3 separate regions of the Homo sapiens genome follow, and all the other regions are reported to be linked to region 2. The links are microRNA targets in miRTarBase. Many come from high-throughput screens and were not tested one by one. Region 2 holds a microRNA gene; each other region holds the end of a gene's coding sequence.

Evidence for each region. The annotated mature microRNA hsa-miR-3679-3p reads CUUCCCCCCAGUAAUCUUCAUC and lies in region 2 at 2,126-2,147, opposite strand. An mRNA with a match to its seed (bases 2 to 7 or 8) in the 3' UTR can be bound and repressed. Matches are read on the target gene's strand: a 7mer-m8 pairs with bases 2 to 8, a 7mer-A1 pairs with bases 2 to 7 and ends in A, and an 8mer does both.
Region 1: miRTarBase lists SEMA4D as a target of hsa-miR-3679-3p. Seed matches in the 3' UTR shown: 8mer at 867-874.
Region 3: the mRNA of GLIS3 is a reported target of hsa-miR-3679-3p. Seed matches in the 3' UTR shown: 7mer-m8 at 2,645-2,651 and 8mer at 3,940-3,947.

What each region holds. Positions count from the first base shown.
Region 1 is chr9:89,375,053-89,379,273 of GRCh38, reverse strand. It overlaps SEMA4D (semaphorin 4D), which reads left to right. Exons shown (of 16, transcript NM_001371194.2): 16 at 1-2,039. The coding sequence ends at 570. Among named protein-coding and RNA genes, the nearest start is that of SECISBP2, 59 kb to the right of the region's middle. RefSeq lists an enhancer at 3,239-3,348 and a silencer at 3,819-3,878.
Region 2 is chr2:134,125,094-134,129,314 of GRCh38, reverse strand. MIR3679 (microRNA 3679) reads right to left here and starts at 2,190; the gene lies at 2,123-2,190. It also overlaps a transcript of MGAT5 not described here.
Region 3 is chr9:3,824,521-3,828,741 of GRCh38, reverse strand. GLIS3 (GLIS family zinc finger 3) reads left to right here. Exons shown (of 11, transcript NM_001042413.2): 11 at 334-4,221. The coding sequence ends at 470. Among named protein-coding and RNA genes, the nearest start is that of GLIS3-AS1, 72 kb to the left of the region's middle.

The sequences.
Region 1 (4,221 bases), not on the chromosome of region 2:
GTGGCATCCACCCAAGGGTCTTCTCCCCCAACCCCAGCCGTGCAGGCCACCTCCTCCGGGGCCATCACCCTTCCTCCCAAGCCTGCGCCCACCGGCACATCCTGCGAACCAAAGATCGTCATCAACACGGTCCCCCAGCTCCACTCGGAGAAAACCATGTATCTTAAGTCCAGCGACAACCGCCTCCTCATGTCCCTCTTCCTCTTCTTCTTTGTTCTCTTCCTCTGCCTCTTTTTCTACAACTGCTATAAGGGATACCTGCCCAGACAGTGCTTGAAATTCCGCTCGGCCCTACTAATTGGGAAGAAGAAGCCCAAGTCAGATTTCTGTGACCGTGAGCAGAGCCTGAAGGAGACGTTAGTAGAGCCAGGGAGCTTCTCCCAGCAGAATGGGGAGCACCCCAAGCCAGCCCTGGACACCGGCTATGAGACCGAGCAAGACACCATCACCAGCAAAGTCCCCACGGATAGGGAGGACTCACAGAGGATCGACGACCTTTCTGCCAGGGACAAGCCCTTTGACGTCAAGTGTGAGCTGAAGTTCGCTGACTCAGACGCAGATGGAGACTGAGGCCGGCTGTGCATCCCCGCTGGTGCCTCGGCTGCGACGTGTCCAGGCGTGGAGAGTTTTGTGTTTCTCCTGTTCAGTATCCGAGTCTCGTGCAGTGCTGCGTAGGTTAGCCCGCATCGTGCAGACAACCTCAGTCCTCTTGTCTATTTTCTCTTGGGTTGAGCCTGTGACTTGGTTTCTCTTTGTCCTTTTGGAAAAATGACAAGCATTGCATCCCAGTCTTGTGTTCCGAAGTCAGTCGGAGTACTTGAAGAAGGCCCACGGGCGGCACGGAGTTCCTGAGCCCTTTCTGTAGTGGGGGAAAGGTGGCTGGACCTCTGTTGGCTGAGAAGAGCATCCCTTCAGCTTCCCCTCCCCGTAGCAGCCACTAAAAGATTATTTAATTCCAGATTGGAAATGACATTTTAGTTTATCAGATTGGTAACTTATCGCCTGTTGTCCAGATTGGCACGAACCTTTTCTTCCACTTAATTATTTTTTTAGGATTTTGCTTTGATTGTGTTTATGTCATGGGTCATTTTTTTTTAGTTACAGAAGCAGTTGTGTTAATATTTAGAAGAAGATGTATATCTTCCAGATTTTGTTATATATTTGGCATAAAATACGGCTTACGTTGCTTAAGATTCTCAGGGATAAACTTCCTTTTGCTAAATGCATTCTTTCTGCTTTTAGAAATGTAGACATAAACACTCCCCGGAGCCCACTCACCTTTTTTCTTTTTCTTTTTTTTTTTTTAACTTTATTCCTTGAGGGAAGCATTGTTTTTGGAGAGATTTTCTTTCTGTACTTCGTTTTACTTTTCTTTTTTTTTAACTTTTACTCTCTCGAAGAAGAGGACCTTCCCACATCCACGAGGTGGGTTTTGAGCAAGGGAAGGTAGCCTGGATGAGCTGAGTGGAGCCAGGCTGGCCCAGAGCTGAGATGGGAGTGCGGTACAATCTGGAGCCCACAGCTGTCGGTCAGAACCTCCTGTGAGACAGATGGAACCTTCACAAGGGCGCCTTTGGTTCTCTGAACATCTCCTTTCTCTTCTTGCTTCAATTGCTTACCCACTGCCTGCCCAGACTTTCTATCCAGCCTCACTGAGCTGCCCACTACTGGAAGGGAACTGGGCCTCGGTGGCCGGGGCCGCGAGCTGTGACCACAGCACCCTCAAGCATACGGCGCTGTTCCTGCCACTGTCCTGAAGATGTGAATGGGTGGTACGATTTCAACACTGGTTAATTTCACACTCCATCTCCCCGCTTTGTAAATACCCATCGGGAAGAGACTTTTTTTCCATGGTGAAGAGCAATAAACTCTGGATGTTTGTGCGCGTGTGTGGACAGTCTTATCTTCCAGCATGATAGGATTTGACCATTTTGGTGTAAACATTTGTGTTTTATAAGATTTACCTTGTTTTTATTTTTCTACTTTGAATTGTATACATTTGGAAAGTACCCAAATAAATGAGAAGCTTCTATCCTTGATTTGGGGAAGACATTCCTTAGCGGAGGCTGTGCAGCCTCCCGCCCCTGCATGGCCCAGGCGGGACAGCTGGGCTCGCTCTTTTCTGTCCGTTTCCTGCTGTGTTTTGCCCTCTCTGGCCTGTGACGTGCTCCTGGCGACTTCTTCCTCAGTGCCCTCTCTTTTCTGTCCTCTCTGTCTCACAGCCTCGTCTCCTAAGCCCCTCCCTCCTCCTGGCTCCTCTTCCCTGTCCTGTCTGGGCCATGTGGGGGACAGGAGGCTTTCCTCTCCCTGGACCCCCTGGCCAGCCTCGGGTGCGGGGCCCGACAGCAGCTCGAGGGTCTCCTTGCTGCCGCCCTTCCTGAGTGACCAGGCACAGCACGTGCACGCCCTGGGGAACTTCTACCTCTTCTGCCAGGCCACAGGTGAGTTGGGCCCTCTCTGTCCCCTGTGCCCTGTCCATCTGTCTCCTCCCACAGGTGGGGGGCGGGCGGGGGCATCCTCCACATCCCTCCACATGTTCCTTTACCTTCCTTATCTGTCCTGGCTGCGTCCCTCGGGTTGAGCCGTTTCACGCTTTCATTGTGGGTCCATCCCGAGGGAAACTGTAGACAGTGTGAAGCCACTTCTAGTGTACAGGGGTCAACCAGTGTTTTCTGTAAAGGGCTAGATATTTAGGCCTTGTGGGCTGCAGGCTGTGTCACAGCCACTAAGCTCTGCTGTTGTATTGTAAAACCAGCCATAGTCAATACACAACGAGTGGTCAGGGCTGTGTGCCAGTAAAACTTTATTTATAAAAATGCACGGTGGGCCAGATTTGCCCCAAAGGCCCCAGTTTCCCAACCTGTGGTATATAGGATTGCTTCTCCCTTAAAAAAAAAAAAAATTTCAAGAGACAGGGTCTCCCTCTGTCACCAAGGCTGGAGTGCAGTGACACAATCATAGCTCACTGCAGCCCCTGCCTCCTGGGCTTAAGCCATCCTCCTGCCTCAGCCTCCAGAGCCAGAGTGCTTCTATTTCTGCTAACAATTTGGAGGTTGATATACGTGGTATTTGGAAATTTTAAAAAATTAAGAGCTTCCAGAATGGGAGTTGTTTTAATGACTTGCTTCGTGGTATTTAAAAGCGGAAAAGATTGGCGGGCATAATCCCCCTGCTTTGGGAGGCCAAGGCAGGAGGATTGCTTGAAGCCAGGAGTTTCACAGCAGCTTGAGCAACATAGCGAGACCTGATCTCTACCCAAAAATGTGAAAAAAACTAACCAGGCTTGGTGGCACGTGCCTTGAGGATTGTTTGAGCCCAGGAGTTTGAGGTTACAGTAAGGTATGATGGTGCCACTGCACTCCAGCCTAGATCACAGAACAAGACCCTGTCTCAAAAATCATCATCATTATAAAAACAGAAAAGATTGAGAGTCTAGTGTACTCCTCTGGGACCTGGAGGCATTTGCCCTGGATTGGAAAATACTCGGATGGGATATCTGCTCTTGAAAGATAGTAGATGTCCAGAACCACACTTCAAAGATGTATCCTGTGCTTCAGGCAGTGCGTGGTAGCCCTGGTGGCCCCTGTGTTGTCATCTGACTGATCAGTAGATACAGAAAGAAAGGAAGTGGCCTGTTAGAGCCTGCCCCGGGGGAGGGATGAAGTTAATGAAGAGGAAAAGCAAACCCAATTGCTCTCTTTTTAAACATGTTAAACACACTGTCAGTAGCTCCTGAGAGTTTTAAGGTGCTGCCCTCTCCTGTTAAACAAGCTCTGAGAGCCCCAGGTGGCCCATGTCTGCTGAGGCCAGAATGTCCCTTGGCAGCCAGCACTGGACAGGAGAAGCTGCCGGTGAGCATGGAGCACTGTGGAGACGGAGCTTTGCTAGGCTGGCTTGTGTGGTTCCTGCCCTCCACTGGGTGCTACGGACCAAGGCTGTGCTGAGCCCCCTGTGGCCGCTCTCACAGCTGAATGGTGCTCCTCGGCCAGCTAGTTTGCCTTGGTGCAGGCATCCCAGAGGACTTCATGTCTCCATGGAGACTGTGTCCTGTCGCAGCACTGGGGTCCTTCAGGCAGACTCAGGAAGCTCCTCCTCGGTGGGGAGGCTGGGAAGCGGGCGGGTCTCTATGAACTGGCCGTGGACCCAGGGCTCCTTTGCGGGCAGATGCAGGCAGGCTGTATGGTCAGGCAATGTTGGTTGGTTATTTATTTATTTATTTTT
Region 2 (4,221 bases):
GAGAACTTTTCCCAGCTTGGTGAGAGTATCAGTGTGATGGCAGAGAGACAAGGACTCAGCTGGACATTGCTGGCATTGAAACTGGAGAAGGGGGCATGAGCCTAGGAACACGGGCAGCCTCTAGAAGCTAGAAAAGGCAAGGAGACCGATTCTCCCTTCAAGCCTCCAGAAAGGAATAGACACCTTGATCTCGGCCAGTGAGACCCATAAGGGACCTCTGACCTACAGAATTCAAAGAGAATAAATGTGTGTGGCTTTAGCTGCTAAGTTTGTGGCTGTTACAGCAGCAATAGAAGTAATCTTGTAGTATTTCTATTAGAGACTGACAGTGAGGAAATAGAACAGTCACACTTGAAACCACTGAACTAGGAGGAAGAAACTCGGAAACTTAAAGAGTATTAACCAGACATGGCATCAAAAAATGGAAAGCTGTCCAGACACGGTGGCTCACAACTGTGAGCACTAAGAGAGACTAAGGCATTTTGAGAGACTAAGGCAGTAGGATCGCTTGAGGCCAGGACTTCGAGACCAGCTTGAGCAACATAGTAAGACTCGTGTCTCTCCAAAAACTAAAATTTTTTTTAAAAATTTAGCCAGGCGTGGTGACACATGCCTGTAGCCCTAGCTACTCAAGAAGCTGAGGCAAGAGAATCACTTCAGCCCAGGAGTTGGAGGTTACAGTGAGCTATGATTGCACCACTGCACTCTAGCCTGGGTGACAGAGAAAGACCCTGTCTCTAAAAAAAAAAGAACTAATAAAACTTGAAAGTTGTATTTGATTCTGCTTACAGAAATAGAGAAAAGGCACTATCATAGAATAAGCAACTCATTATCATGAAAAACACTTTACAGGAAGAACAATAAAATCTTAATACACAGTATTACCAAGGATCCCCTACCTATACTACTTAACAAGCTGGTACTAGGGGAAAGGCCATAGTAACAAAATCCTTTCACAGAAACTTTCTGCAGACTTCCTTTAACTGATGGCTACTCCAAACCTGCAGCTCTCTGATCACTCCCTCTTTCTTCTTTCTCTCTCTCTCTTTCTTTTCTTTTTCTTTTCTTTCATTCTCTCCTTCTCTTTCTCTCTTTTTTTTTTTTCTTTGTAGAGGCAGGAGTCTTGCTTTGTTGCTCAGGCTGGTCTCAAACTCCTGGGCTCAAGCAATCCTTCCATCTCAGCCTCTGAGAGTGCTGGGATTACAGGCATGAGCCACTGCACCCAGCCTCCACTTTTTCTTAAGATAACATTGACAATAAGGTAATAAGCCCTAGTGGTGTGTGGACACACACACTCACATTCAGAGTCCCAATTTGTTGACCTGCATGAGACCATAAACTGTGCTAAGAGGAAAAAAAAAATGTCCACAGACTGATTTTAAAAGATGAACTCTGAAAGAGCATAATGACCAAACGGAACCTCAAAATCAGGAACACACCTAGGAATCTTTTTAAGGATAGACTAAAGAAACTAAAGTAGCTGAGTGTGCAGAACCCAGCCACGCAGGCACACTAGTAGAACCCTCCAAGTGTGGGAGGGGCTAAGTGATGCACCACTTTTCAGATGAGAAATCAGAATCACTAACCACAGAATCGGCCCACATGAAGACAGCCAGCTAAGTGCAGAAGCCTCACCTGCCACGGTCGGAGTTCACTCACGATGCCATGCTGCCTGGACAGCTCATCTCGTGACTCCAGCACGCCAGGCCTGGAGCTTCCAGCCTGTACCCATGAGAGCTCCATGACACTCCTTTCTTTATTGGACCTACATGTTTCTTTTTTTGTTTTGGGGGGGTTGGAACAAGCCTGGGGGGGGGGGAAACCTTTTCCTTGAAGGAGCTCACTGGACATAAGAATTGCAAAGGAGGAATGGTGAACCTCTAAAAGTTGATCGTATTTACCCAGGAGAATTACATTTGTGTGTAATGTACAGTGAAGACTGCCCAATAACAATGTCATCTTTAAACCCACCAAGCATAATAGCTAAAAATCAAATAAAGGAAGAATGTTAACATTCTTAGTCACAGAGACTAGAACTTTTTTACAGAGGGAAGGCAATCAAGATGAACAGAGGGGCTTGAAGCTGTGTTTGCAAAGGTCTTACACAGGACTGGGGACACCGCATGATGAAGATTACTGGGGGGAAGGGAATAGAGGGAAACTCCCCTTCCCTGCCATATCCTCACCACGTGGGGCCTCTAACTAGGTGCTCTAAAAAATTACAGGAAAGGGGACGAAGGAAGTATACCAAACAAATACTAAGAAAGGTGCCAAAGGAAAACAGAGAAATCACACAGAGCATGAGGCAGAGATGGTACTTTCTCTTTGCATCCAAGAAAGAATCGGTCATTCAGAAAACTCCTCACCGGCATGGATGCTTGTAAATAACAAACTGGAGGTGAAAATAAGATGGTTTAAAAAAAAAAAAAGCAGCTGCAAGAAGACTGATACCAAACTTCCTTATGTTGAAAGGTAGTAGTTACACACTGAATGTGTAGACAGAATTTGGCCCTGCTTGTGGCAGTGTGTAAACACCTAGCCACGTCCCCAGGGCACTGTGCGAGGAACCACAGAAGGCTATGAGCCTGGTCATCTTCTCTACTCTTTGAATCTCAATTTCCCAAGGGAAAAAATAGCTTCACTAAAGGAAAGCAGGTTATTTCAGGGCTGAAAGTAAGGACCAAGGTTTTTTATTTCTAAACATACAAAGATAAACATCCCCAAAGAGAGTAACAATAAAGGGCTGATTCTTCTTAGTTAAGCTTTTCGGCTGCCTGCTAAAGAGAGTCTACTGGCCAGGGCAAAAACAACCTGAATGTGTTCTCAACCTTCTTTTTAATTTAATAAGGGAATTTCATTTAATTTATGTTACAAGCCTTTTGCCACATGTATAGAATTAAGCAACATTAGGAACTGAACGGATCTTTGGAGCGCATTCAATCCCCTCTTACTTCTCAACCTAACAGCTGAGGCCCAAAGTGGTCACATGGGCTGAATTAGTATGTTCATCTACATTTCCCTTTATCACTGAACTTAACTCTTCTGGGTGTGCATTGACCAGGCTTAGACTTTAAACTCCTTGGGTAGCCAGTGACTATTTATTTGGCAGAAGCATTCCGAATCAGGAACAGGTGAGGGCAGGAAAGGAAACGGGTGCTCACTGCTATGTCCAATGGGAAGATTCCACAAAGTATGGCGATCTTGGGTTCAGAAAAGCATTTTGTGTGGCCTCTGCTCTCTTTCTAGGACTCCGCAGACACTGCGGGAATGTCTTCACAGGCACCGATTATCAGAAATGTTAAGGAATGGTCCTGATACCTCTTCCAGGTCACTCCTCACCTACCCCATGCTCCTAAAGAAAGGAAATCAATGCTGAGAGGAGCCAGGAGCCCTAAAACACAGAGAATTAATAAGAGTGAAATGTAAAATCCAGCCCAGACTGGATTCTTATCATGTCAAACTTAAAAGGTGACATGAGAAAGGGAACCCCTCATTCCAAAGGATATACGTCACTTAGATTCTCCCAGCTGGGGATGGTAGGAGGGAACTGGGCCACACCAACCTGCTCCCTACCACATTCCAAGGTGAAGCTGGGTGTGAGCACACAGTGGGCTCCAGTGAGGAACAGATGCCCAGTGGCCATCAATTCTCTTCCTGTATCATTGCTATAAACAAAGCAGGCAGGCACCCGTTATCAACTGTTACCAATTGTTCCTGTGGGACCACAGAGGAGATGTGAGGTCCAGCTTTGCCACTGCTGCCTGCTGGTGAGACTTTGAGAAAGTCCCTCCACCTCTCTGCACCTCGGTGACCTCAGCTAGAAAGAGGAGGGCCCTCCCTGCAGTGCCCCTGGGTATCTATGAAGCCCTCTCGGCTTAGGTTGGAAAGAAGGTGCTGGCTAGTACAGGGCATACTCACCAGCCTTAACCACTACTCACAGCCCAACCCACACTGGCTCTGGATCTAGACCACCTGGCTTCAAATCCTTGCTCTGCCACTGAGTAGCTGTTTGTAACCTTAGCTAGATTTCCTGACCTCATGATGTTATGGTCTCTCCATGTATAAACTTGGAATAACAACAGAATCTACCTCATTGTTGAGTGAAATACCTGTAGTACAAAAGAAGCATTTGCAATAATGCCAATCGGAGAAGGTGGATTTTTTTCATCGCCATCATTCCTATTTTCTTGTCTACCCTTTCTTGATGTTTCTCCACCAAGA
Region 3 (4,221 bases), not on the chromosome of region 2:
ATTTCTTCATCTGTGAGAATTCCATTCTCTTTCATGACTCAACCTTAACACCAGCTCCTTTTTGAGGCCACCCCCAGCCTTCCCTAGAACACTTTTCTTTTACTTCTTCTCAGCCTGTCTTTTGTGTGGTCATATTTTAGCCAGCTGCCTGCAAGTCAGCCTCTTCCCTCACTAAGGTCGCTGGAAACAGAGACTCACTATAGGGCCCAGGCTGGCATGGTTGCCTCCTTAGCCCCCAGTCCTCACTTGGTGAGCTGCATTACTGTAGTGCATTTCCAGTGGGCGTGGCATGGGGCAGGAGTTACTGACTTAACTGCGTTCTTTCTCTTCCAGTGTATGATTTACCTTCAAGTTCCTCGAGCCTCTTTGGGGAGTCTCTCCGCAGCGGGGCTGAAGATGCTACCTTCTTGCAGATCAGCACCGTGGACCGCTGTCCTAGCCAGCTCTCCTCTGTCTACACCGAAGGCTAAAAGCTCTCTTGGCCACTCCTGCACACCCAGGACCTTGATGTTGCTTGCCACCTTTTGTTTTCGTACTCTCACAGACTGCTTGAGGAAGGATGTCAGCCCAATCAGCGGGCCCTGCAGAGTTACTGATGTTCTTTCAGAAGGCAGGACTGAATGGCAGAGCTAGCTTTGCAGGAATCATTACAGTTGCTCCTTTTTCTCTCTGGTTTTCCTGGACTATGTGACCAGGAGGACTGTCTTTTCAAAGGGAATTTAGAGCCTCACTCTCCTGGATACCTGTTACTTCCTGGCTGTCAACCCTTAAAGGACCCCAGTGAAATGATGTGCATATGAAAATGTAGTTTGGGGATGACTCTACCTGAAAACTCCAAACAGGGAAAAAGACCTCAATTACGAGAGGCATAGTGACCTGCCTCACCTAATCCTCACCCTTGCTGCTCCTGATGCAAAGCCAGGCACAACAAGGGAAATCCATGTCCAAAGCATAGTGTGGTCTCAACTCTTAGAAACTCCCTGGGTTTCCCTTTTCTCTTAGCCACATGCTAACCAGTTGCTTCTCAGTGTTTCTCTTCAATAGAAAAATAAGGTTTTATATGCCAGCAGCCTATCCTTGTTTTTGCATTTTAAAGACTTAGTTATTTATACGTATTTTAAAATGAAAAAAAAATGTAAAGGTCTGTGCTTTGGATGGAAATCATTATTATTGTAATCACCCCAGCTATAGACATTTTGCACAGCTGTGGTTCTGCCTGGCCCCACCTCTAGCATGTTAGTTTTGCAGTTAGCAAAGGTTACCTGAGGGAAATGGAGTGGGCACCTCCCGCACCAACAGTCCTGTAGCTGGAACCTTCCTGAGTTGACTGTTTAGTAACTCCACCTCAAAGACTGTGTTCAAAGAAAAATGTTGTTTGACTGGTTTACCCATTGCCTCCACTCTGGTGCTGCACCCAGAGAAGTGCCAGATGTGAGAACTGGGACAGACTGAGTCATGTGCCAGCTTCCCTTGGAAAACCAAACCTAGTGATACTTGACTTCCAGTGCTCAGATTTTACTAACGTTTTTCAGGATATCCACTCATCTGTCTGTCTCTTCCCTACACTTCTCTCCACCCTCTTTTTGCATCCCTCTTACCCTCTTCCTGACTGTGGTTCATATATCCCCACCAGCCGCCATTGTCTGATCATCTTGGGAAGGTAGAGGTGACAGTTCTCGAAAAGTCTACAGAAAGAGGCAATTCTTTTTCTGAGTTCCAGTTTGAAGGCCTGGAATTTTCACATAGCACTTGGTCGAAAATATCAAGCCTAAATAGGAAGTCATTTTCTGTGACACCTCTACATAGCTATTACAGATCCTAAGTCCTAGGGCATCAGCTATAAAAATTGGCCAGTCCCAAAGACACAGTAAGTTCTAACATTCTGGTACTATCATATTTCAAGTATTTTTTCTCACTTTTTAAAAATGTTTTTCTGAACAAAAGTGAAACAATGCCATTTATCAAACTGAGATCATTACAATCTTCAACAAGACAACTAAAACAGCTTGATGTTAGATGGGATTCTGTGACAGTTTGTATACTGACAGGTCCTTCCAGTCTCCCTCCACAGTCCCACAAGCGGAAGTATTCTACCTGATTCCAGAGTTCATTCCAACATGCAGTAGAATGAGGTGAATGAAGAACCAAGTGTGGGTTTTGTTTTCACAGTGCACTTGGTCAATCTAGTTTCTCTGAGTAGTGGGCTGTATTCTAAGAAAAGCTTTCACGTAGACGTCAAAGTCTGCAAAAGAGATGAGTTAGCCACTTTAAAAAACCTGCTCTGCTTTACAAAAGATGCACACCAGGCTTCCTTTACAAGTGAACTCCAAGGCTGCTTGTAAAGTACCACCCTTCCTGCAGACTTTGTGGGTCGTGTCACTTGGCCTAAACAAGTGGCCTAACATATGCATGCTCACAGCTAGTAGCATCCCTCATGCGTCCTTTGTCATACTCTGGAAAGAAAAAAACTCTGCTATCTTCAGAGAAACCATCTATTCATACTTAAATATGGAAGCCTTTACAAGGAACTCAAAATACATTTCATTTCATTTGTACAATGAGAAAAAAGATGAAAAGGCAAGGTTGTTATTGCAGTTGACATTGTCAGCCCTGCCTTTTGGCTTTATGTAATTTAAAATAGAAAGGGGGAAGGAGGACAAGACAGAAGCTCAACTTTAGAAACCATGGACATCACCTCCCTCTTTGAGAGGAGCTGCTTGTGAACCAGGCTCCAGTCTTCCTGTGGCCTCTCACAGTAACCCTGCCCCTTTCTTACCTCACAGGGGCAAGAGGGACTCTAAAGAGGGCGTAAGCAATAGAGGCACCTGCAGCCCTCCTTCCTCAGCAGGAAATCAATGTGGAGCCCCAGAGGGACATTTTATCTCAGAGAGAGCATGCTGGCCACAGGACCCAGTGCAGCCCTGCTTCCCGCACCGTGGGTCTTTCCTGATAGCTGCAGGCTTGAGATTGCAGCCTCAGGATAGGACACGTTCAGATGCCTTCCAGACTACACACACTATGCTTAGATTCGAGAGTCTTTCCTGACCTTAAAATTTGTCCCTTGCTTACTTTCACACTGCAGAAGATTTATATATATATTCATCATTATTTTTGCAGCAGTACAAGTGGAAACTTCAAAAAAATCATTCCCTTTCATGTCCTGGTCTTTTTAAGTCTTGATATGTAACCATTTTCATAAATGTCCAAACAGAGATTGTCATTCCCCTTAAAAACAGAAACAAAACACAAAACTAGTGCTTGTGAAAACACACAGCGCAAAGACAATTATCCTATTGCATTAAAAAAAAAATCAGTCTGCCTAGAGACATTTCATTGGCTGCATTGTCTTAATTCCCTAACGAAACTGCATCAAAATGTCAGTTGTAATTTAGCCTCTGATCAGCTGTTAAATATTATTTAAATATTTACAGGTCCTGTGGGGTATCTCCCATTACCCATGTCGCCCTCAAATTACATAAGCGATCATAAAATAAGAAGAAAAAAAAAGGTCTTTAGTAGATCACAGCAGAGTTACCACTGATAAGAGTGTTGGCTTTGTTCAGTTGTTTCTAAATTACCAGCCGTCAAGCACAGTAGCCCCTAAAACCAATTTTGAGCAAGGATAAATTCAACTCCCTCATCTGAGAACCTTGACTTTCCAGTTGCCTTGAAGTATTGGGAATAGTAACTGTACATTTTCAATTTAATTATTTGGTATTTTATTTGACTGTCTTGGCCATGTCATTTTATGGAAGCATTTTTAAATAGCACTTTTTGTTAGTGGTGTGGAATTTCTGCGGTTATTATTTTTTTTTTTTTTTGCAACAGATGAAGCAAAAAAAAAAAAGCACTCATTGGAGAAATAGTGAGTGTAAAAAGAGATTTATTTTGTACAGACAGCAAAGTATCCTGTGTAATGTTGCTGACATAAAGCACTTTGGGGGAAAAAAGTGGAAATCTGTTTTCCATAAATCACACAGACTCTTGTACATAGTTATATACACTCACGTAGAGAAATGAACTGCATATATCATACTGGATATGGGGCCGATTTTACTCTAGAGGCACATCTGGTGCTTATTGTCATAAATCTTTTAAAGAATTAGGTACACTTTTTTCTATTAATATGTATAGTTTTGTGATTTGTCACAGTTATGTTTCATATAATCATAAGTTATTTTGTCTTGTTCATGAAGTCCTTTTTTTATGTCAAAAGTAAAA